Linked DNA regions of Homo sapiens: region 2 is linked to region 1. The links come from fine-mapping of genetic effects on gene expression. Tissue or cell type: thyroid. Region 1 holds a variant in brackets; the other region holds the start of a gene. All regions are shown on one strand. Distances are between the middles of the regions.

Evidence for each region. PIP is the estimated chance that this variant, and not a neighbour inherited with it, causes the effect. A credible set is the group of variants that fine-mapping cannot tell apart.
Region 2: LINC01659 starts here. The variant in region 1 is the best candidate, but not a certain one, in a credible set for the expression of LINC01659 in thyroid (GTEx, PIP 0.74).

Annotation. Positions count from the first base shown.
Region 1 is chr22:23,512,083-23,522,680 of GRCh38, forward strand. It overlaps LINC02557 (long intergenic non-protein coding RNA 2557), which reads right to left and starts at 1,252. Exons shown (of 3, transcript XR_938072.2): 1 at 1,194-1,252; 2 at 1-561. RefSeq lists a silencer at 9,700-10,059 and an enhancer at 10,405-10,598. The variant C/T (reference allele first, on the strand shown) is at 5,533.
Region 2 is chr22:23,428,038-23,438,635 of GRCh38, forward strand. LINC01659 (long intergenic non-protein coding RNA 1659) reads left to right here and starts at 5,527. Exons shown (of 3, transcript NR_110538.1): 1 at 5,527-6,024; 2 at 6,523-6,693; 3 at 6,787-7,034. RefSeq lists enhancers at 3,203-4,048, 7,615-8,306.

The sequences.
Region 1 (10,598 bases):
TGGGAGGCCTGCGCTCACAAGGCTCTACATCCCGAAGTGATCTCACCAAGGGGCACAACAGCCTGGAGAGGGAAGTGCCATTGCTCCCATTTTGCAGATGGGCAAGATGAGGCCCAGAGCCACCAAGCCCCTCTCGAGTTGCAGCTTCTGGGGGCAGAGCAGGATGTACATCTGGTCCCGCCTAACTATACCCAGAGAAACCTGCCGTGGGCCCTTCTCCATCACACATGGTCATCCCACACTATCACAAAGGTCAGGGGAACCGCTATGTCTGCATAAAAACAAGTGTCATCAGTTGGATTTGTTCAAGGTGAGGCTTACCTGCTCCCTAATATATCGAAAGCTCCTGTTGAAGGAGAGTCAGGGACATGCCAGGAGGCCTGCCATGCTGTGACCAGTTGTCATCTCACCGAATCCTCACCAGTACCACGTGGCTCAGCAAGGTTAGGTAACATACTCAAAGTCACACCGCCTGCCCCCAAATTAGTCATGGCAATCTCCTGTCTTCAAGGTCCAAGTTTTGCTGTTTCCTCAGGGTCAAAACCAAGGTCTTCTCCTGTCCTGGAAGAACATCAAGCCATAGATGGAACTCTGCGTTCCTGGTGTGACCTCAGACAAGGCTCTTTGCCTCCCTGGGCCTCAGTTTTCTCATCTGCCAAATGGGAAGGCTGGACTCACTACTCCCTCAGACTCTGTTTAACTCGAGCATTCTGCAGGGACTCATCCTGGGGCAGGTGGGGTCAGAGGGCAGATGGCCAGGAGCAGAGCCAGATGGGAGCAACAGCCTTCCCTCTGCCAGGACAGGGAGAGACCTGGCTGCCTCACAGTGAGAGGTCTGGCAGCCAGGGAGGGCACTGGGGACAAGGGCCCAGCCGGGCACCCTATGGAGCACATGACCCCCACCTGTCCATGGAGCACACGACCTCCACCTCCAGCTGCCCCTGTGCTGCAGACAACTCCCAGGGTGGCGAGGGTGGCATCCTGATCCCAGCAGCGCCTGCAGGACTGGGAACCTGCTGCCCACCCACCCCCTGCCACTTGCTCTCCCTTCCTTGCCCAACCCCAGGAGCTCAATGCCTGCTCAGGGCAGGAATAAGAGGCAGAGGAGGGGTGAGGAGAGAAAGGAGTCATTAGGGGCCTTGCTGATCCTTCGTGGCGCCTCCATGTCCCTATCCCTCATGCAAAGCACTAACCTGGAGGCGGAGCATTTCATCGAAGCAAAGCATCTCCTGCCACCAAGCACGTCCACGGTATTGGGGATTGATTGCTTCTATCCTCCAGCCCACTCTACGGAGCACCCACCGTGTGACAGGCGCGGCGCTGGGCAACGAGGATAAGAAAATGAATAGGCCACGACATGTGCGCCTGAGAAGTCACAGACTCAGACAGGAGACAGGCTCGATACCACACACCAAGGTCTGGATGCACACAGGACACTGAGTAACTCCTGCAGGGTGAGCGGGTTTCCAGGGCACTCGACAACCGGCAGAGTCTGGAAGCAGCCTGGAGGGGAAAGGGCATTCCTGACGGGGGCACAGCAGAAGCAAAGGCCCAGTGGCATGAAAGACCAAGGAGTGTTGAGGGAACAGAGAGCAGCTTGGTGTTGGGGCGGCATCAGCGGGTGGAGCTGGAGCCGATGAGAAAGGATAGGCCAACTAGGGTTCAAGTGGCCAAGACCTTCTATGCCCTGCTCTGCCAGTTACAGCCAGCAGTGGTGGTAAGCACAGCCACCCGGCACTGAACAATGGCAGTGTGGCCGGCACTGTGCTAAGCTCATCTCAGTCACTCGCTCACCACATCCTCCAACGAGCCCATGAGGCCCAGAGAGGTTAGGCGAGTTACTGGTGGTCACACAGCCGATAGTGGCCAGGCTGGAACTTGGACTCAGGCTCCCAATTCTCACCCACCAGCATGTGCTGCCTCTGAGGAGTTTGGGGTTCCCCTTCAGGACAACTGGGAGTCACAAGGGATTTTTAAGGGGGGTGGGTAGCAGAGTCTCAGTGCCCTAAATCCCCAAGTCATGCTCATGGAGAAACTGCTGCATCCACCTGGGAGACGTGGCCAGTCTGTTTTTAGGGTCTGAGGGTCACCTTGGCCTCTCCGGGAGCTGCCCTGGTTTCCCCAATGCTCCTGAGTACTGGGGCTTGGCCTGCGTCTTCTGCCCCAGCCTGCTGCTCCTGGGTTCCAGTCTTGGAGCCAGGGGTCATCACTGCCAGGGCCTCTTCAGAACTCAGGCGCCCACCTATCAGGGCCTCAGCCCCTCCAACACTCCCTGGGGCCCCCACATTGCCCACCCTCTCTTCCCTCTGCCCTTCCTTGCTCGAGATAACACCTGGGATGGGGGTGCATGGGGAAGCGCCCCCTGATGGAGCTAGACAGCCCTCGGGAGGGAGTTAGACAGCCCTCGGGAAGATCCAGCAGTGGTGGCCTCTCCTTGCCCTTCCCCATGTCCTCCCTCTCCCCTCTGCCCACCCAGCCTCCCACCACATGGGGCACTGGAGTGCTCCTTCCCACCATCTGCCCTCCTGGGCTCCGCTTTCATTCTGCTCCCCCGACCCCAGGTCTCAGCATTGCAGGCATCACAAGACAGCGGATTCCAGAGGCCCCAAAACACTTCCATCCTCCAAGCACGCACTGAGCATATGGAGAAGCTGAGGCCCAAGCAGGGCCAATGGCAGAGCAGCTGGAAGCCCAGCTCTCTTGTGCTCTTGCTGCAGCTCCAGCTCCTGGTCGGCCGTCCACCAGGCATCTGCTGAGCGCGATGTGTTTCCATTTAGGGGCATCTCACACTTGATCCTCACTCCAGCCCAGAGGAGGCTGGGTTAAAACAGGAAGGCTGGGCTGTCCAGCTCTAGCTCCTTCTAAAAATGCAGTGAGTCCCATGTTGGCATCTCTGCTTCGCAAACAGGTAAAACGAGGCAAGCAGTAGGTCAATGACTTGCTGTCTCTGGTCGTGTGTCAGGCAACCACAGTCACACAGTCACGAGGGTCTCCTGTCTGAGATCCTGCCTATTCTTTTTTTTTTGAGACGGAGTCTTGCTCTGTCTCCCAGGCTGGAGTGCAGTGGTGCGATCTTGGCTCACTGCAAGCTCCGCCTCCCGGGTTCACACCATTCTCCTGCCTCAGCCTCCCCAGCAGCTGGGACTACGGGCACCTGCAACCACGCCTGGCTAATTTTTTTGTATTTTTAGTAGACACGGGGTTTCACTGTGTTAGCCAGGAAGGTCTCGATCTCCTGACCTCGTGATCCACCTGCCTCAGCCTCCCAAAGCGCTGGGATTACAGGCGTGAGCCACTGCGCCCGGCCAATCCTGCCTATTCTTTAGTGTTAAGGCCAGGAAATGCCTTAGTGTAGACTCCTCTCCCTGTGAATGTGGCAGACATTACTAATTGATCACAGCACTCTTTCCCTCTAAGCCGAGATGTAGTCTCAGAATCCTCAACACAGCCTCTATTAAATGGGGACCTGGCAATCGAGGTGACACCTACCTGTTCAACGCCCTCTCTGGAGGGCAGGATCCTGTCTTACCTAGTATCTTCCCCAGCACTTGGCTCAGGGCCCAACACGTGGCACAGATCACGGTAATAAATTTTTTTTTTTTTTGAGTTGGAGTGTTGCTCTATCGCCCAGGCTGCAGTGCAGTGGTGCGATCTCGGCTCACTGCAAGCTCCGCCTCCTGGGTTCACGCCATTCTCCTGCCTCAGCCTCCCAAATAGCTGGGACTACAGGCACCCGCCACCATGCCTGGCTAAGTTTTTGTATTTTTAGTAGAGATGGGGTTTCACCGTCTTAGCCGGGATGGTTTCGATCTGCTGACCTCATGATCCACCCGCCTCGGCCTCCCAAAGTGCTGGGATTACAGGCGTGAGCCACCTTACCTGGCCATTTTTTTTTTTTTTTTTGAGACAGAGTTTTGCTCTGGTTGCTCAGGCTGGAGTGCAATGGCACAATCTCAGCTCACTGCAACCTCGGCTTCCAGGGTTCAAGCGATTCTCCTGCCTCAGCCTCCCAAATAGCTGGGATTACAGGTGCCCGCCACCATGCCTGGCTAATTTTTGTATTTTTAGTAGAAACAGGGTTTCACCATGTTGGCCAGGCTGGTCTCGAACTCCTGACCTCAGGTGATCCGCCCGCCTCGGCCTCCCAAGGTGCTGAGATTACAGGTGTGAGCCACCATGCCCAGCCACAGTAATAAATTTTTATTGAGTGAGTGGGTGAACGAGTGGTAACCACCGAATGAACGATGCCTCCCAAAGCCAGTGGCTCTAACCAGCTTCTTTTGTAGCAACAATATGACAGCAATAATTATAACAGTAATGCCCCCAACAGCTGACATTTCCCGAGTCTCTAAGGTATTTCATCTGAGCTCTGGAATGCCATTTCCTCAGGGTCACACATCACAGGACAGAGCCAGACCCCGCCCCTGGCCTCTTGCTTCTGAGTCCAGTGCTCTGCCCCGGCCCCCACCTCTGCCAGGTCCCACCGCAGCTTGTCTGGGTCAATTGGAGCGGACCTGGACCTCAATCTGGGGAACCTGCAGGTGTTGGAGGCAGATCCCAGAGGCCGGGGTGGGAATGGGTGCTCGGGGGAGTAGTTAGTTGGGTTCTTACTCACCTGTTTGGGATTGTAGAAATACAGAATAGGAGACATCACAATGCACCACATTTACCATGACCTGACCCCCCTCCCCCCAAAATTCGTATGTCAAGACATAATCTGCGTCAAGCTTGGTGGCTCATGCCTGTAATCCCAGCACCTTGGGAGGCTGAGGCGGGTGGATCACCTGAGGTCAGGAGTTCCAGACCAGCCTGGCCAACATGGTGAAACCCCGTCTCTACAAAAAATGCAAAAATTAGCCAGGTGTGGTGGCACATACCTGTAATCTCAGCTACTCGGGAAGCTGAGGAGGGAGGATTGCTTGAACCTGGGAGGCCGAGACTGTAGTGAGTCAAGATGAGGTCACTGCACTGCAGCCTGGGTGACAGAGGGAGACCCTGTCTCAAAACAAACAAACAAAAACCAAACCAAACCAAACCAAAACAAAAAAACACCATTATCTGCAATGTGTATTAAAAGGTGAGGATTCTGGCCTGGGGCAATGGCTCACGCCTGTAATCCCAGCACTTTGGGAGGCCGAAGTGGGTGGATCACGAGGTCAGGAGATCAAGACCATCCTGGCTAACACGGTGAAACCCCATCTCTACTAAAAATACAAAAAATTAGCCAGGCATGGTGGGGGGGCGCCTGTAGTCCCAGCTACTGGGGAGGCTGAGGCAGGAGAATGGTGTGAACCCGGGAGGTGGAGCTTGCAGTGAGCTGAGATCGCGCCACTGCACTCCAGCCTGGGCAACAGAGTGAGACTCCGTCTCAAAAAAAAAAAAAAAAAAAAGAGGTGAGGCTTCTGGGAGGTGATTAGGTCATGAGGGCTCTATCCTCATGAATGGAATTCATGCTCTTAGGCAAGAGGCCTGGGGAGCCTGCTCACCCCTTCCACCACGTGAGGACAAGGCTATAAGGCATCTATGAGGAAA[C/T]GGCCCTCATCAGACACCGAATCTGCAGGCACATTCATCTTGGATTTCCCAGCCTCCAGAACTGTGAACAATAAATTTGTTTATAAATAACCCAGTCTAAGGTATTTTGTCATAACAGCCGAATGGACAAGCACACCCTTTTTTGAATATGTAGAAGAGAGGTCCCCAGGGAGTGTGATCGGCCCAAGGTCACCTGGCGGCCTTGGCTGAGGAAGGTGTGCAGAGCCCAGTGTCAGAGCCCCTGAGATGCCCTCTCCTCTCCTAGGGCCCTGGGCACTTGGGGTTAGTTGTTTTGCATCCTTTTGAGAATGTGAGTCCCTCAGAGGGAGGAACCTGGGCACGTCACATAAGGCTTGGCTCAAGATAGGTGCTCAGTAAACACTGGATGGACAGATGGGCAGAAGGAAGGAGAGAATGAAAGGAGGAAAGGAGGGAAGGAATGGGTAGCTGAGTGGATTCATGGATGGGTGGATGCATGGCAGCACGGGAGGGAGGATGAGTGATTGGGAGGATGGATGGATGGATGGATGGATGGATGGATGGATGAAAGGAAGTAAGCCAACATGGATGGAATGAGTGATGGAATTGATTGTCCCCTGCACCTGGAGGCTTCCAGTGACTCAGCCACAGAGGTCAGGAAGCTGGAGACATGAGCAGGCGGCTCACCCCATGGTCCCCTCCCCCTCCCCACCTGATATTTTCATCAGGACACATCTTCTGCACCAGGCCCCTCAGCTCCTGCCCTGCAAAGCTGCAGATGCCTCTGCTGGCTTTATTAAGGCCCTATTAGCCCAGCAGCCCCAGGGAAGGCTAAAGATGCTGTCACTGCAGACACTGGTTTGGTAGCCTCAGAGGAGCTCAGTAGGGAGGGCCAGGAACCTAAGGTTACAGCGAGGTCTTTAGAGCTGCACAGGCCTGCCTGGTTTAATCCCAGTTCTTCTGCTAATTGGCTGTGTGGCCTTGGGCAACTTACTTCCCTTCTCGGAGTGGCGGCTTCTCCACCTATAAAACAGGGTCATTAACGTGCTTGTTTGAGGATTTGCTGAGCTAAAGCATTTACAACACCTAGCCCAAAGTAAGCACTTGTTACATATCCCAGGATCCCTGGGAGCCAGGTCCACGGTGGAGCGCTCATACACAGCAGCCCCCATCTTTGGGATCAGGGAGGCGCTGTGACCCACCCTATTTCATGGATGAGGAAACAGGATAACAGGAGATGAAATGCTTGGCCAAAGCCACCGTGCTGGGCAGTGACAGGGCTGAGATTCAAACATGGGCTATGGAGACCGTGACTGGGCCACTTCCTGTTCCGGCTACTGAGCAGGAACAAAGCCTGGGACGGGAGCGGGGGGCTGGAGGGGCGCTTCTCCCACTAGCTCCTCAGAGGTGACAGCGCGGAGGAGGGGAGGAGAAGGGAAGCTGGGACAATCACGCTGATGTACGGCTTCCAGCGGGATTAACTGCACCATCTGGAGGCCACGCGTCCACCTGGGTGGGTTAGGAACCCCAACCCTTCGGTGTAAACGGCAGGGGGAGACTCAGTGGATGGCAGATCGGCTGGGGGCTGCCGGGTTGACTGTGGGGACCATGTGGGGCCCACCTGGCTTTCCTGAAGCCCCCATCTACCCCTGAGGATGTCTCCCACTGAGGGGGCTGGATCTCCACCAGACTCAGAAGATTCCACAATGGCTGGATCCAAGGGTTCAAATACAAAGGGAGGGCTGTGGCCTGAGCCACCAAAAAGTACAGGAGGTGAGCAGGAAGAGCGGGGGAACAACAGAGACAGGAGCAGCAGCTGGACACTCGCTCTCAGGGGTGTGTGATGGAGACTGCACCACCTTCCAGCTGTGTGTCCCCAGCATGTGGCTTCACTTCTCTGAGGCTCTGTCCCTTCATCTGTGAAACTGGGATCTAGTCTTTACCTCACTTGGTTGCTTTGAGGGTCGAATTAGATAAGGCAATGTACAGGCCTCGGTGGAGTGCCTGGCACTGAGTAAGTTCACAGTCAGTGGTGGTTGTGATTATTATCCCCATTTGCAAGATGGGAAGACTGAGGCTCAAAGCAGCTCAGGGACTTGTGTCGGATTACACAGTTGGTTGGTGACAGAACCCATGGCCTCTGCTTCTCCTGACCCCAGTCCAGTGCTCTTTTCCTGGAGGCTTGACCAAAGATGAACCTGTCCTGGGACACAGCCAGCCCCGGAGTGTCAGAGACCCAAGGTGGCCATCTTGGGTCACACCAGCTCCAATGACAGATTCCATGTTCTAGCACCTACTGTGCACCAGATGCCATGCCACGAGCTTCTGTGCACCACCGCCAGGAGCCATCACCATCTGTGACAGGGGCACTGCGCTGTCCCCGTCGTCCAGATGCACAAGCAGTGGTTTTGGCAGAGCCAGGATCCACTGCCAGGCCTCTCTGGTCCTGGAGTCCCCATTCTCAGCACAGGCTGCTGCCCGCTGGGCCAAGATGGGGCTTCTCTACACTGCAGCAACAGCTCCCAGGCGCCCTCCCACCAAGTGTTCATCTTCTCCTTCAAGGAGAGATGGCAATACAACACCCAGACTGCCACTGTGGACCCTAAGTCTTTCTTTTTTTTGAGATGGAGTTTCACTCTTGTTGCCGAGGTTGGAGTTTCACTCTTGTTGCCGAGGTTGGAGTGCAATGGCGTGATCTCGGCTCACTGCAACCTCCGCCTCCCAGGTTCAAGCGATTCTCCTGCCTCAGCCTCCCGAGTAGCTGGGACTATAGGTGCCCGCCACCCCGCAACCCGGCTAAGTTTTCGTATTTTTTAGTAGAGACGGGGTTTCACCGTGTTAGCCAGGATGGTCTCGATATCCTGACCTCGTGATCTGCCCTCCTCGGCCTCCCAAAGTGCTGGGATTACAGGCTTGAGCCACCACACCCGGCCCATGGACCCTAAGTCTTCTGGACACCAGACAAGCTTCCCCTACAGGGCGGGGTTCCTTTCTCACATCTAGAAAGAAGGAGGGAGTAGGAAAGAAGAAACATCAGCCCCAGCCCCTCCCTCCCTTCAGCCAGCACAGGGCCGCAGTGGGGGCCCAGGCTGGTAGGCAATGATGGCAGGGAGGTAGTTTGAAGCAGGGGGGTCCCCTTTCCCCGCACACCCTCCCTACATTCCCATCTGGTCAGCCTGCTCGCTGAAAGTTGAAGTCTGCCTTGTACAAAAAAACAAAAACCTCCCTTTCCAGTGTAGAAAGCCCCAGAGACCCGAGCCACTCTGCTTGCCTTCTCTCTTGGCCCTTATGGCCAGGACAGGGGCCGGGGAAATGACAGCTGCCCTGTGCAGGGGAGAGAAATCGTATTCTTTGGCTTGGCTCCTCTCTGGGGCCATACCCCAGGAGCAGCCCACGGAGCCGGTCCCCACTGACTCCCACCAGCCACTGCCGGGAGTAGGGCCAGATGGGGCGGCTCCGGATCCCGCCTCGCTCGGCAGGCCAGGCCCGGAGACCTGTCCCCCTGGTACCTCCCGGCCTGGCCATCCGAGATGACCCTTGCCCCTTCCCCACAGCCCAGACCTCTGATCCTTATTAAAAACAAACAAAATCTAGAGAAAAAAATTATCCACAAACAGCCTGAGAGATGATCGCGCGTCCCCGGCGCACGCAGACACGCACACATACACACACGCACACCCACGCGAGGTCGCCTCCACTTAAACATGCTGCTGGAGGGCGGGTTTTGTTTATGGAACATCCACGTTTCTCTCAACTTTGGGAGGGGTGAGGACTGTTTCAGAGTTTTCTGCTAGATGGGGGAGCCTGGGGCGGCAAGGATGTCTTTTCTGCTTTGTGCTCTTTGCCGGTTCAATGGGGGAGTGAGATACGTGGACAGAAGGACCAGGAAACCCAGGAAGGGGGCCCCAGGGCAGCACCCCCACCCCCAGGGGAGGTCAGGCTCCGGGAGGGCAGCCCCGGGGCCTGGGAAGCCTGGACTGCGCCTGAGCTCCGGAGGATAGGGCTGGTGGCCCGCGTCCCCTCGGCGACCCCGCGCTGAGCCCAGGGTCTGTAGTTCCGAAAACGTCTGGGACCGCTGGGCCGGGATCCCTACCCCCTCCTCTCCCAGCCTTCAACGCCTGGAAACCAACGAACCCGCCCGGAACAAAGGCAGGCCGGCTTTCCAAAGGCAAACAAAGAACAGTTTGTCTTTTCCCTCCCCCCACCACCACCCGAGCAGGCGGCGGGAATAGGCCTAGGGGTCCGGATGGCCCCGGCGCGGCGCGGCGCCAGGGCACTCCCACGGCGCCCCCCAAGGTCCCGCTGCGAATGCGCAGGTCGGGGCGCCGGAGGCCGCGGCAGACAGCGCGGCGCCACTCCGGCCCGGTCTCCGTGGCAACGGGCTGGTGGGAGGGGCCGGGCGGTGCGGGCGCCTTGGCCGCTGTTCCTCGCGGGCACGTCGCTATGGCAACGATGTTACTCTCTGCGGCCGCTTTCCGGCTCCGCTAGCTCGCCTGACCCTGGCCGCTCGAGCCCCCTCGTCTCTCACTTGCTGTGTTTTCCCCTCTTTTCCCGGGCGTCCTCCGCCTGTATCCTGGGCCCCCCAAGCAGCGAGCCCCGGTGCCCCCCACCCTTACCCCTCCTCCCCGGTGCCCAGGGCCCGGGAGGGAGATTGATGGGGTGTGCTTATTAAAAAACATTGTAACCGCCGGGCGCGGTGGCTCACGCCTGTCATCCCAGCACTCTGGGAGGCCGAGGCGGGTGGATTACAAGGTCAGGAAATCCAGACCATCCTGGCTAACACAGTGAAACCCGGCCTCTACTAAAAATACAAAAATTAGCCGGGCATGGTGGCGGGCGCCTGTAGTCCCAGCTACTCGGGAGGCTGAGGCAGGAGAATGGTGTGAACCCTGGAGGCAGAGCTTGCAGTGAGCCGAGATCGCGCCACTGCACTCCAGCCTGGGCGACAGAGTGAGACTCCATCTCAAAAAAAAAAAAGAAAAAACAAAAAACAAAAAAAAGAAAAAGAAACATTGTAACCGTTTCTGTTTCTATTACGTTGACAAGGGAGCGTTATTTACTGTTACTGTTTGCCCAGCAGGCTGTGC
Region 2 (10,598 bases), 84 kb before region 1:
ATTGACTACAGTCTCCTGCTGTGCAATAGACCTCAAAACTTTTTTCTCCTGCTTGGCTGAAACTTTGTACCTTTTGAAGACGAAGTCTCCATTCCCTTGTTCTACCACCTTGCCAGCTCTGGTAACCATCATTCTTCTACCTTCTACTTCTATGAATTCAGCTTTTTTTTTCTTTTTTTTTTTTTTTTGAGATGTTGTCTCGCTCTGTCGCCCAGGCTGGAGTGCAGTGGCACAATCTCAACTCACTGCAACCTCCGTCTCCTGGGTTCAAGTGATTCTCCTGCCTCAAGTAGCTGGGATTACAGGAGCCCACCACCATGCCCAGCTAATATTTGTATTTTTAGTTGTTAAGGAGCTGGTTCCTGGGGCCATTTGTGGTGCAGGGTTTGTTGTTAAGGAGCTGGATCCTGGGGCCGCTTGTGGTGCAGGGTTTGATGGGGAAGACAGCCCCATCTTCCCCGCTTTTTTCTTCATCACTCTAAGTTTTATCAATTTTTTTATCTCTCTCCTTTCAGATCTGTCAGGTTTTGCTTCCTATATTTTTAATCCCTATTTTGGGGTACATATGCAGTTAAGATTGTTATATCTTCTTGATCACTTGCAATTGTAATTATAATTATGCAATGTCTGTCTTCATCTCTTAAATATTCTTGTTCTGAAGTCTGACTTGAGTAATATTAATATAGCCACTCCTGCTTTCTTACAATTTTAATATTTATATATACGTATCTATATTTCTAATCTTTTAATCTACCTGTGTCTGTATATTTTAAATGGATTTTTTGAAGATAACATCTAATTGAATCTTGCTTTTTTATTCAGACTGATAATCTATGCCATTTATATTTAATATAATTTTTATGACATTGAGTTTAAATCTGCCATCTTGTCATTTGTTTTCTTTTTGTCTCGTATATTCTTTTTTTCATTTTTCTTGCCTCTTTTGGGCTGTTTTTTGGTATTCCATGTTTTCTCCAACATTGGCTTATTAATTATACCTCTTTGGTTTTCTTCTGTTTTGGTTTAGTTATTGCTCTAGGGCAAGGGTCAGTAAACCTTTCCTGTAAAGAAACAGGTATCAAATATTTTAGGCTTTGGGAGCCATACTGTCTGTGTCACACCTCTGCTGTTGTAGCACAGAAGGAACTGTTACATAATGAGCTCAGATGTGTGCCAGTAAAACTTTATTACAAAAGCGGGCGGTGGGCCAGAATTGGCCCATGGGCTGGAGTTTGATGACCCCAGCTCTATGTCAGTCTATTTTCAAATAATCTTACACTAGTTAACATAGAGCATTTTAAAAGTATTTTTCCATTTTTTCTTTTTATGTAATTTTTGCACAAAATTTTTTTTGTGAAATTATGTTTTCACTTTAGAGAGTACATTATCTTCTAAATTAAAATGATTCAAAAATGCTTGTTGAAGTGTATTCACGTATTTAAATACATGAACTGTATTCACGTATTTACTGCTTCTGGCAGTAGTGTTCCTTCCTTTGTGTTGATCCAGATTTCCATCTGGCTTTTTTTTTTCTTTTGCAGGAAGCACTTCCTTAACATTTCTTATATTGTTGTCCTGCCACTAACAAATTTTCTCGGCTTTTCTTTGTCTCAAAATGTCTTTATTTCATCTTCATCTTTAAAGGATATTTTCACTGGATATAGAATTCTGTGTCGACAGTCATTTTTTTTAAGCATCTTAAGAACGTTTGTTTTGTTGTTTTCTGGCTTGCATGGGTTCTGACAAGAAGTCTGCTAGTAGTCTTATCTTTGTACTTTGTATATAATATACACCCCACCCCCAGCTGATTTTCTTTGTATTTATCCTGCTTATGGTTCATTGAGCTCCTTGGATTTATGGATTTATAGTTAGTCAGATTTGGGAAATTTTGGCCATTGTTTCTTTAAGTATTTTTTCTGTTCCCCTCCCCTTTTTCCAGTACTCCAGTTTTACATATTTTAAGTCACTAATATTATCCTAATTACTGAAGCTTTGTACTTTTTGTTTTTTGGTTCTCAATCTTTTTTCTGTGCTTTAATTTGGATAGTTTCTGTTCCTGTCTTTAAGTTCACTGACCTTTTATCCTGGAGTATCTAACCTGCCCTTGATTTCATTCAGTGGAGTTTTAAAATTTCATTTGTTTTTCATGCCTAAAAGGTCTATTTGGTTATTTTTTTCATATCTTTGGTTTCTCCTTCATTTTTGTAGTCTGTTGCTACGTAACAACTTTCTCCAGAAGTTAGCACCTAAAACAGCAGGCATTTGTTGTCTCGTGAAGTTTTTGAAATTCAGGAACCCAGAGCAGTTTAGCTGGATGGTTTTGGCCCAGATTCTCGTCAGAGGGTGCAGTTAGGGGCTTTTGTCCTGGGTTGCAAAGCTGAAGGCTTGACAGGGGCCAGATGATGTGCCCAAATTCATTTAGGTGGCCCTTGGCAGGAGACTTCACTTTCTCTCCATATGGACCTCTCCATAGGTCTGCTTGAGTGTCCTCACAACATGGCAGCGTTCAACGCAGAGTGAGTGTTGAATGAGTTAGGAAGAGACAGACAGAGCCAGCCCAAGATGGAAGCTACAGTGTATTTTATAACATAATCTTGGAGTTGATCTACTATCACATCTGCCTTTTTTTTTTTTTTTTTTTTTTTTTTTTGAGACAGAGTCTTGCTCTGTCACCCAGGCTGGAGTGCAGCAGCACTGTTATAGCTCACTGCAACTTTGAACTCCTGGGCTCGTGATCCTCCCGTCTCAGCCTCCTGAGTAGCTGGGACTACAGGTGCACACCACCATGCCTGGCTCTGCCGTTTTCAATTGATCATGTAGGCCAACCTTGGTATGATGTGGGAGGAGACAGCACCAGGGTGTGACTGCCAGGAAGCAGGGTCGCTCAGGGCCATCCTGGGAGCTAGCAGCCATCCCCTTCACTGTGTTCAGGTTTTCCTGTAAATTCTGCAGCATATTTATAATTGCTGTTTTAAAATCCTTGTCTGCTGATTTCATCATTTCTGGACTTATTTCTATTGGCTGAGTTTTCTCCTAGCTATAGAACACATTTTCCTTTTTTTGCATGCTTAGTAATTTTTGATTGTATGATGGTAATTGTTAATTTTATGTTAAGTGTATGAAAGGGTGCAAATTTCCTTGTTCTTTCTTTGAAGAGTATTGGGCTTTTTCTGGCAAGCAGTTAAGTTATTTTGGGGTCAGCTTGATCCTTTCAAGAACTGTTTTCACACTCTCTTGGGGCTTGTATGGATTTGCTTTTATTCCAGGGCTAGTTTAACTCTGCTACTAAGACATGACCCTTCTGAGGTTCCTAGCAGATGACCTGGGTGCTCAGCAAGAACACTTGCTCTGGCTGGTCGGCATGTGCCTGTCCCCGGTCCTGCGTGACCTCTGGAGTTGTTCCCTGACAGCTCCCCGATGTGCTTGGTTCAGCCTTGTGGAGTTGCATGCTGTGTGCGTAGAGTGTATTACTCAGCAGCTCAGCGAGACCTTTCTCCAGGTTGCCAGAAGCCTTCTGTGCACAGCTCCGCCCTCCACAGATCCTCCCTTCCTCTCAGCAGGACCATCATGCTGAGCTTGAGCTGTACCCCACGGCGCCAAGCCTGGAAGAGACCACTGGGTAGAGCAAGGGGTGTTCAGAGGTTCACTTCATTTGTTTCTCTGTCTTTAGACAGCCCAGTGTCTGTGAACAGTTACTGTGTGTATTTTGTTCATTTTTCTAGTTGTTTACAACATGAAGGCAGACCTGGTCTCAGTTGCCCAGCATGACGTCCCAGATCCACATGTGAGGAGGAGCAGCAGCATGGGGGTTCCGCTGCGAGCTCAGGGCAGGGGTCTGTATTCCAGGAACTTGGGTGGGCTTCATAGACCCCTGTCGTTCCCAGAATTATAGGCAGCACGGAGTGTGCTTGTGCACACTTTCCTGGGTGGAGAGGCACACGGCACCTCACGCATTGAAGCGTTGTGGCCCCTCGGGGAGTTAAGACCCAGTGGGAGGAGGACCAGGGCGGGGGGCCTGGAGATGGAACCGCACCTTCCCATGCTGCCTCGCTAATTCTACAAATACTGTTGACATCCTGTGCGTGTGGCCTTGGGCAGAGGGGTAAAGACCGGGCAGCCCTGGCAGGGGCTCTGGGGCCAAGGATGTCACCTTCTGGGGGTAAGAGCGAGATGTCCTTCCAGAGCCTGGGTTTTGAGAGGAGGTCACCCTGGCCTGGTTAGGATGAGTTGTCATCTTTTAGCTTTTGGTTTGGTTTCTGTTTGTGTTTATTTTCACTTTTTGCCATGGAAAGTTTTAAGCATATATATAAAAATATGGAAAACAGCATCGAGAAGTCCCTGTGAGCCCATCCCACCCTCTTCCCCCTTCCTGGATTATTCTGAAGCAAATCCAAGGTATCGTAATCAATTTAGCTGCAATCATTCAAGTATTGTAGCATGTGTCTCTGAAAGGCTGGTGACTCCATAAAGCCCTAACCAGAGTCCTTTTATTGTGGTAGGACCTGGTCTCGGTGGGTGAGGACAGTGGGGAAAGGGGCAGCGTCCAGCAGGGTGACCACCTGTGCGAAGGAGAAGAGAGACAAAGCACCTGGTGTTGGACCAGACAGGGGGCTCAGGACCTTGGGCTGCAGTTGACCACGTGAGGCCCTTAGCCTCCAGAGAAGGAGCTGGTTTAACATGACCCATGGTTGTGGAGACCTTGCTTCCTAGGTGGGGCTGCCGTGCCCCTACCATCCTCCCACATAAGCACGTTACAGAGATCTGTGGAGCCAAGGGGCTAGTTCACCAAAATAAGACCTGGCCGTGTCCACCACTCTGCTGGTCTGGCTGGGGCTGCCGTCACAGAGCCCCACAGCGGGGGCTGAGACCGCAGATGTGTGTCTCACACAGTTCTGGAGGCTGAAATCTGAGATCAAGGGTCACCGGAGTTGGCCCCTGGGGAGGACTCTCCTCCCGGCTTGTGGACGGCCGCCCCTTGTATTCCTGTGTGGCCTTTCTCCTGTGCACTTGGAGAGCTCTGGTGCCCCTGCTGGATCAGGACCCACCCTTATGACCTTCATCAGACTTGACTTCCCTCCTTAAAGGTCCTATTTCCAAATACAGTCACATGGGGATTAGGTTAGTATCTAAATTTGGGGGACACAGTTCAGACTGTAACAGTTGCTCTGCACAGCCCCGCTCGGTTACATCATAGATGTTTGCACACATCTGTGCACGTGAACTACGTGTTATCTGTTGCACATGCAGCGTTACTAAACAGGGTTCCCTTATACCTCCCGGGGTTCTCGGAGTGGCGTCTTCTCTTTTGCTGGGAACCTTGCCGCCTTTCCTCTCCCTGCCCCTCCCAGCCCGTGGGCCACCTGCTCTCTTCCACGCCTTCCTTTCTCCTCTGCTTGTGCAGCGGAAGGTTCTGCCAGCAGGGGAGTTAGTGAGCAGCCAGTGGAGGGTGTGCCCAGCCTTCCTGCTGCAGACCCGCCCCCAAGTCAACACGGACTTCCCTCCCTGCGCGCCAGAACTTTGCGTTGTTCTTAGTGGCATCTGGGGTCGAGGAGGGCGACTGTCAGCCAGTTGGGGGATGTTTTCTTCTTGGTCTCTCGGCTTCTGCTTCCCTGTGAGCTGGGCAGCCTCAGCCCAGGTCCTATCCGGTACTCAGCTGGCCTCGGTGTGCACAGCGCAGGCTTGAGTGCAGCCGTGGGGGCGGGCGGGGCAGAAGCAGGGCCCCTGGGAACAGCTGAGTCTGAAGGGTCAGAAGCCACGGCCCCTGTGGGGGGCTCTGGGGCAGCCAGGGGAGCTGCTCGTTAGTCGTCTCTGGGGCAGAAGGAAGGGACCTTCACCTGGGTTGGGACTGGGCCTGGGTCCCCAGTCTCACAGGGAGCTCGTCCTGATTGTACCTGCCCGGCTGTGACGGCTGAGCCCGGGCTCCTGGAGGCAAGGCCACCTCAGGCCTCCAGGGCCGGAGCCGCAAGGAGCTGCTGGGTTTCCACAGGGCCACGGGGGCTGCGGCCACACGGAGCGGGAGCACAGGTGGGAAGGGTGTCTGTGAAAAATGAAATCTGTTGCCGCTTCCTCTAGCTTAATTACTGGCATGGTGGTTGCAGAGTTGAAATGCAGCTTTAAAAGCCTTTGTGAGTAATTAGTGTCAAACACACAAGATCTACAAAGCCATAAACTCACAGCTTGGTGATATTACCAAGTACTAATTAAGAAAGAAAAAAGAAAATTCCCTTTCATGATCAAATTTTGAGCCCTGCCAAAGATGAAAAACAAGGCAATTTGCAGCCGATGGCGACGCCGGAGGGTAAGTGGCGTCCACAGGAAGATGGCGGCCGAGCGCGGCGAGCAGGCAGGGTCTGGTTGAGGGCTGGGGTGGTGACGGCGTGATTGTGCCTGGCTACCGGGTTCTCAGCCAGGCAGCACCTGATTCCCAGGAGAGATGGAATCCCAGCTCAGAAAGGGGAGACTCATGCGAGGGCAGAGGCAAGGCACCCGCCCAGAAGGATTGGGGGTCTCCCCATTTCACAGGTGGGGACACTGAAGCTGAGCTCACAGCCAGGAGAGGGACAGCAGAGTGACGGCCGAGACCATCTGCACTGCGAGGGAAGCAGCGCCCACCTTCCTTGGTGGTCCGGGAAGGCCGGACCGGCCCCTTGGGTCCCCACTGGCCTCAGCCACTGTGGGCTCGTCCAGCTTCAGGTAGGCGCCCGGCCACTCACCTGGGAGGCTCTGAGAACGACAGCTTCTGTCTCGTGAGTGACGTGGTGCCCGCTTTCATCCTGGGGCCCACAGCTGCCAGGAGAGGCCAGGCCGAGGTCAGGAGGCTCAGCAGCTGGTTCCATGACTTCCTCTTCGCTGAGGAGGTCAGGACAGAAGCTTCTAGATGACAGGCCGCCCAACTTGGTATAAAACAGCAAATTTCTGTGCCTGTGCTGTCGGGCTGTGAATGACTTCTCGTCTGTTTCATGAGATGCAGCTTCAGCCCAGGGAGCCATCAGATGCAGCCGGGCGAGACGCGGAGCCAAGAGCTGTCCTCGCCCCCCATGTGAGTGACTGGAGAGACGAAATTCTCAAAGTCTTGTCACTTACGGGGATATTTTTAACCCAGGACCAGGGAAGCACAGCTCTCATTGGTGGCCGAGTGCTCTGGCGCTTGGGCAGTGGGCAGCAGCCAGGTTATCGGGACGTGCTCAGGCCCAACAGGACCCCCAGAGCCGCACCTGCCCCCCACAGAGTAGAGCCGGCCCGGGAGCGGCCTTGGTCACATCTAATCCCACCAGCCGCCGACAGTGGAGAGCTGTGCCTGGCCCAGAGATGTGGGCATCACATCCAGGCTGCAAACACACGGGGACCACCTGGCCCCGCCAGGGTTCGCTCTATCCTGGCTTGGCCTGCATGGCCTCTCGCCGTCTGCATGGTCCACTCACCCGAGTCAGGGCTGGGGCATGCAGGGAGTGTGCAGTGACATTGGGCAGAGGGAGGCTGCTCAGGTCCAAGTAGGCAGAGAAACCGCATGCCCAGGCCGCTAAAACCTTGAACTGCAGGAGCCCTGAGCTGCTGTTGCTGTTTTATTGTTTTGTTTTGTTTTGTTGTCAGATGGAGTCTCATTCTGTTGCCCAGGCTGGAGTGCAGTGGTGCGATCTTGGCTCACTGCAACCTCTGCCTCCCGGGCTCAAGTGATTCTCCTGCCTCAGCCTCCCGAGTAGCTGGGATTACAGGCACCCGACACCATGCCTGGCTTTTTTTGTATTTTTAGTAGAGACGGGGTTTTGCCATGTTGGCCAGGCTGGTCTCGAACTCCTGAGCTCAGGTGATCCATCTGCCTTGGCCTCCCAAAGTGCTGGGATTACAGGTGTGAGCCACCGCGCCGGGCTTGTTTTACTGTTTATGACGCGGCTCTGCTGCCGCTAGGACAGATACTTGTACAGCCCGATTCAAAGACTGTGCAGAGGCGTCTCCCAGATACCCCAGGGTGCACTGCAGTCAAGGAAGGCTGCCTGGAGGAGGTGGCCTGGAGCTGGGGCTCACAGGTGAATTAGAGTTTGTCTGGCTGGGTTGGGGAGATGTTTCTGGCCTCAGGATCTCACGTGCTCATGCTCACCGGCTCCAGGGCACCCAGCGTGCAGGGAGAGCAGAGGGGTAGGCCTCGGGCTCCAGGCCAAAGTTGGGGAAAGAGAGTGTCAGACCTGGGCTTGGGGGACGACTCTGATGTCGTCCTCATGGGGGATGGTTGAGTAAAGGGTGGGGTGTGGCTCACTCGTCTGGCCCTCGCCCATGTGGAATGCCCACCGTGCTGGGCCCCGCTGCAGGTGCTGGACGCGCAGCAGTAATGCGGGGGTCCTGCTCCGCCTGGGCACATCTTCCAGCAGGGATTGGAGGGCCGATGGCCAGGCAGGGTCTGTGCTCTGTGTCTAGGTGGTTACGGGGGGAGGCGGGGAGCCTGGGCCTTGGCTGTGGGTGGACCTGTGGCTTGCTGACCTGGTGCCCAGCTGCCCCACCTCCCAAACTGTGAGAAGCCAGGACCAGCCCCATCCTCCATCCAGATGGTCTCTGACGTTGCCCTGGGAGCCGGGGGGGAGGGGTGGGGGATGTTCTAACTGAAGGGCCTGGGCGGCCTAGAGCCCTTCTGTATCTTCTGGCCAATGGTTTTATCTGGTCCACTGCCTCCCAAGCCTGCACATCCCATCACGCGCATTTAAACTGTTAAAAAGTTACTCCCTTGACTAAGCCGGAAATGCTCTCTATGGCCCTGTGGATCTGCGTCCAGTTCCCCACGACATTCCGTTTTTGGAGGCTTTGTGAAGAGGCTGGGGGTTTGTCAGCCCCACTCGGAAGCGAACAGGCTGGTTCCCCGCCCCAGTCCCAGCTTCTCCTGCGGGCAGCTGGCCTGAGAGCCAAGCACTCCCCAGGCCATGGCACCGGGTGGGCAGGACGCTTTCCTGCCAGGCAGGAGGCAGAGCCCTCCCTGGGACCCCGAGTGTCTGTCCTGGGTGGGGACTAGACAGTGACCACCACCTCGACCCCGGGCAAGCCCACCTAGCCCTGCCCCCCCACCAAGCCCTGCTCCACCTACACGAAGCTGCGGCCAGCCCCTTTTGCCCCCAACCTAAATGACTGAGAAGTCTGTTAGGGAGGGCCTCCCTGTCACTCTAAAGAGCAGGAACAGGACATCCCTGCCCCAGGGCACGGAGGCAGCTGGCCATCTGCGAGTGGGACCCGCCACGGTTGGCCAAGCTCAGGCCATATGAGCTGGGACTGGCAGGCAGTTCCTGGCTGCCTCAAATCTGGGGTCCAGACTCTCTGCTGACCTCCCAGAGCCCGGCGTGTCTTTGCACACTCTGTCCTTGTCCCCAGCCTCCTCCCCGCCCCAGGGTGTGCCTGGGACTTTAGGTAGTCTTACCTGTCAGTCATACTTTCTTCTCGGCCAGGGACTGTGGACGGCAGGACGTTCACCCCGTGGTCAGTGGCTGGGCCTTTCTCATGAAGCAGCTTGATTGAGATGTCATCTACAGAGCGTGCAGCCATCATCACAGTCTATCTTGGAATGAATGCCTTTATCACCCTGGAAGGAAACGTGCCCCATAGCCATCCCCTCCCAGCCATCGGCAGCCACTGTCTGTGTTCTGTCTCTAGACTCCCCTACCGGCAGTGTTGCAGGGAGATGGGCTCAGCGATGAGTGGTCTCTGGCGTCTGGCGTCTTTCACTGAACGTAAGGTTTTCACGGTTCGCTCACATTGGACCACGTGCTGACGCTCCATTTGTTACTGATGAATCATACAGTCTAGTGTGTGGATAGACCATGTTGTTTATCCGTTCATCCATTGATAGAACATTTGAATTGCTTCCGTTTAGGGCTATTACACACAGTGCCGCTGTGAACATTCGTGTACAAGCTTGTGTGTGGAAATGCATTTTTGTTTCTCTCGGGTGTACACCCATAAGAGGAAGTGCCGGGGTCACGTGGTAATTTAACGTTGAGCTTTGTAAGGAGCTGCCTCTTCTCCCAGGTTCTCCCCGTCCTCCCCAACACGCGCCACTGTCTGCTTTTATGATGCTTTTCCATCCCAGGGGCTGCGGGTGCCGCTGGGTTACAGGGTCCGTGAACCTCCTGAGATTCAAATGCAAAATGTGAAGTGGGTGTTGGCGTGGGTTTCGGGTAGAGGGACTGCAGCCCCTGCACGGGGTTAGGAATATGTTTCCCAGTCCAGGCAGAGCTACGCAGGAATCGCCTCTAGACACCCAAGAGGGAGCAGTTTTGTCTGGAGAAGTAGCCCACTGCCGTGTTTCACCAGGCTGGCCTGTGATAGCTGGACCTGCCCCGATGCCACCACCTCCTCCTGCCAGGGCTTCCCTGTTTGCTGAGTCTGCGTTATTGATGAGTCATCGTCTATATACACGCACCCGTGAGGCCGTCAAGGCAGTGAACAGACCCTTCGCCCCCAGATCCCAGGCCCTGTGCAGCCTGCCTTGCCCCTCCCACTGCAACCCGACCCCAAGCAGCCACTGATCCTTCTGTGTTTCCTGTCACCACGGGTTCATCCATGTTTTCTAGAGTTTCTGTAAGTGGAATCACGCAGTATCTAGCCTTTCTCGTCTGGCTTCT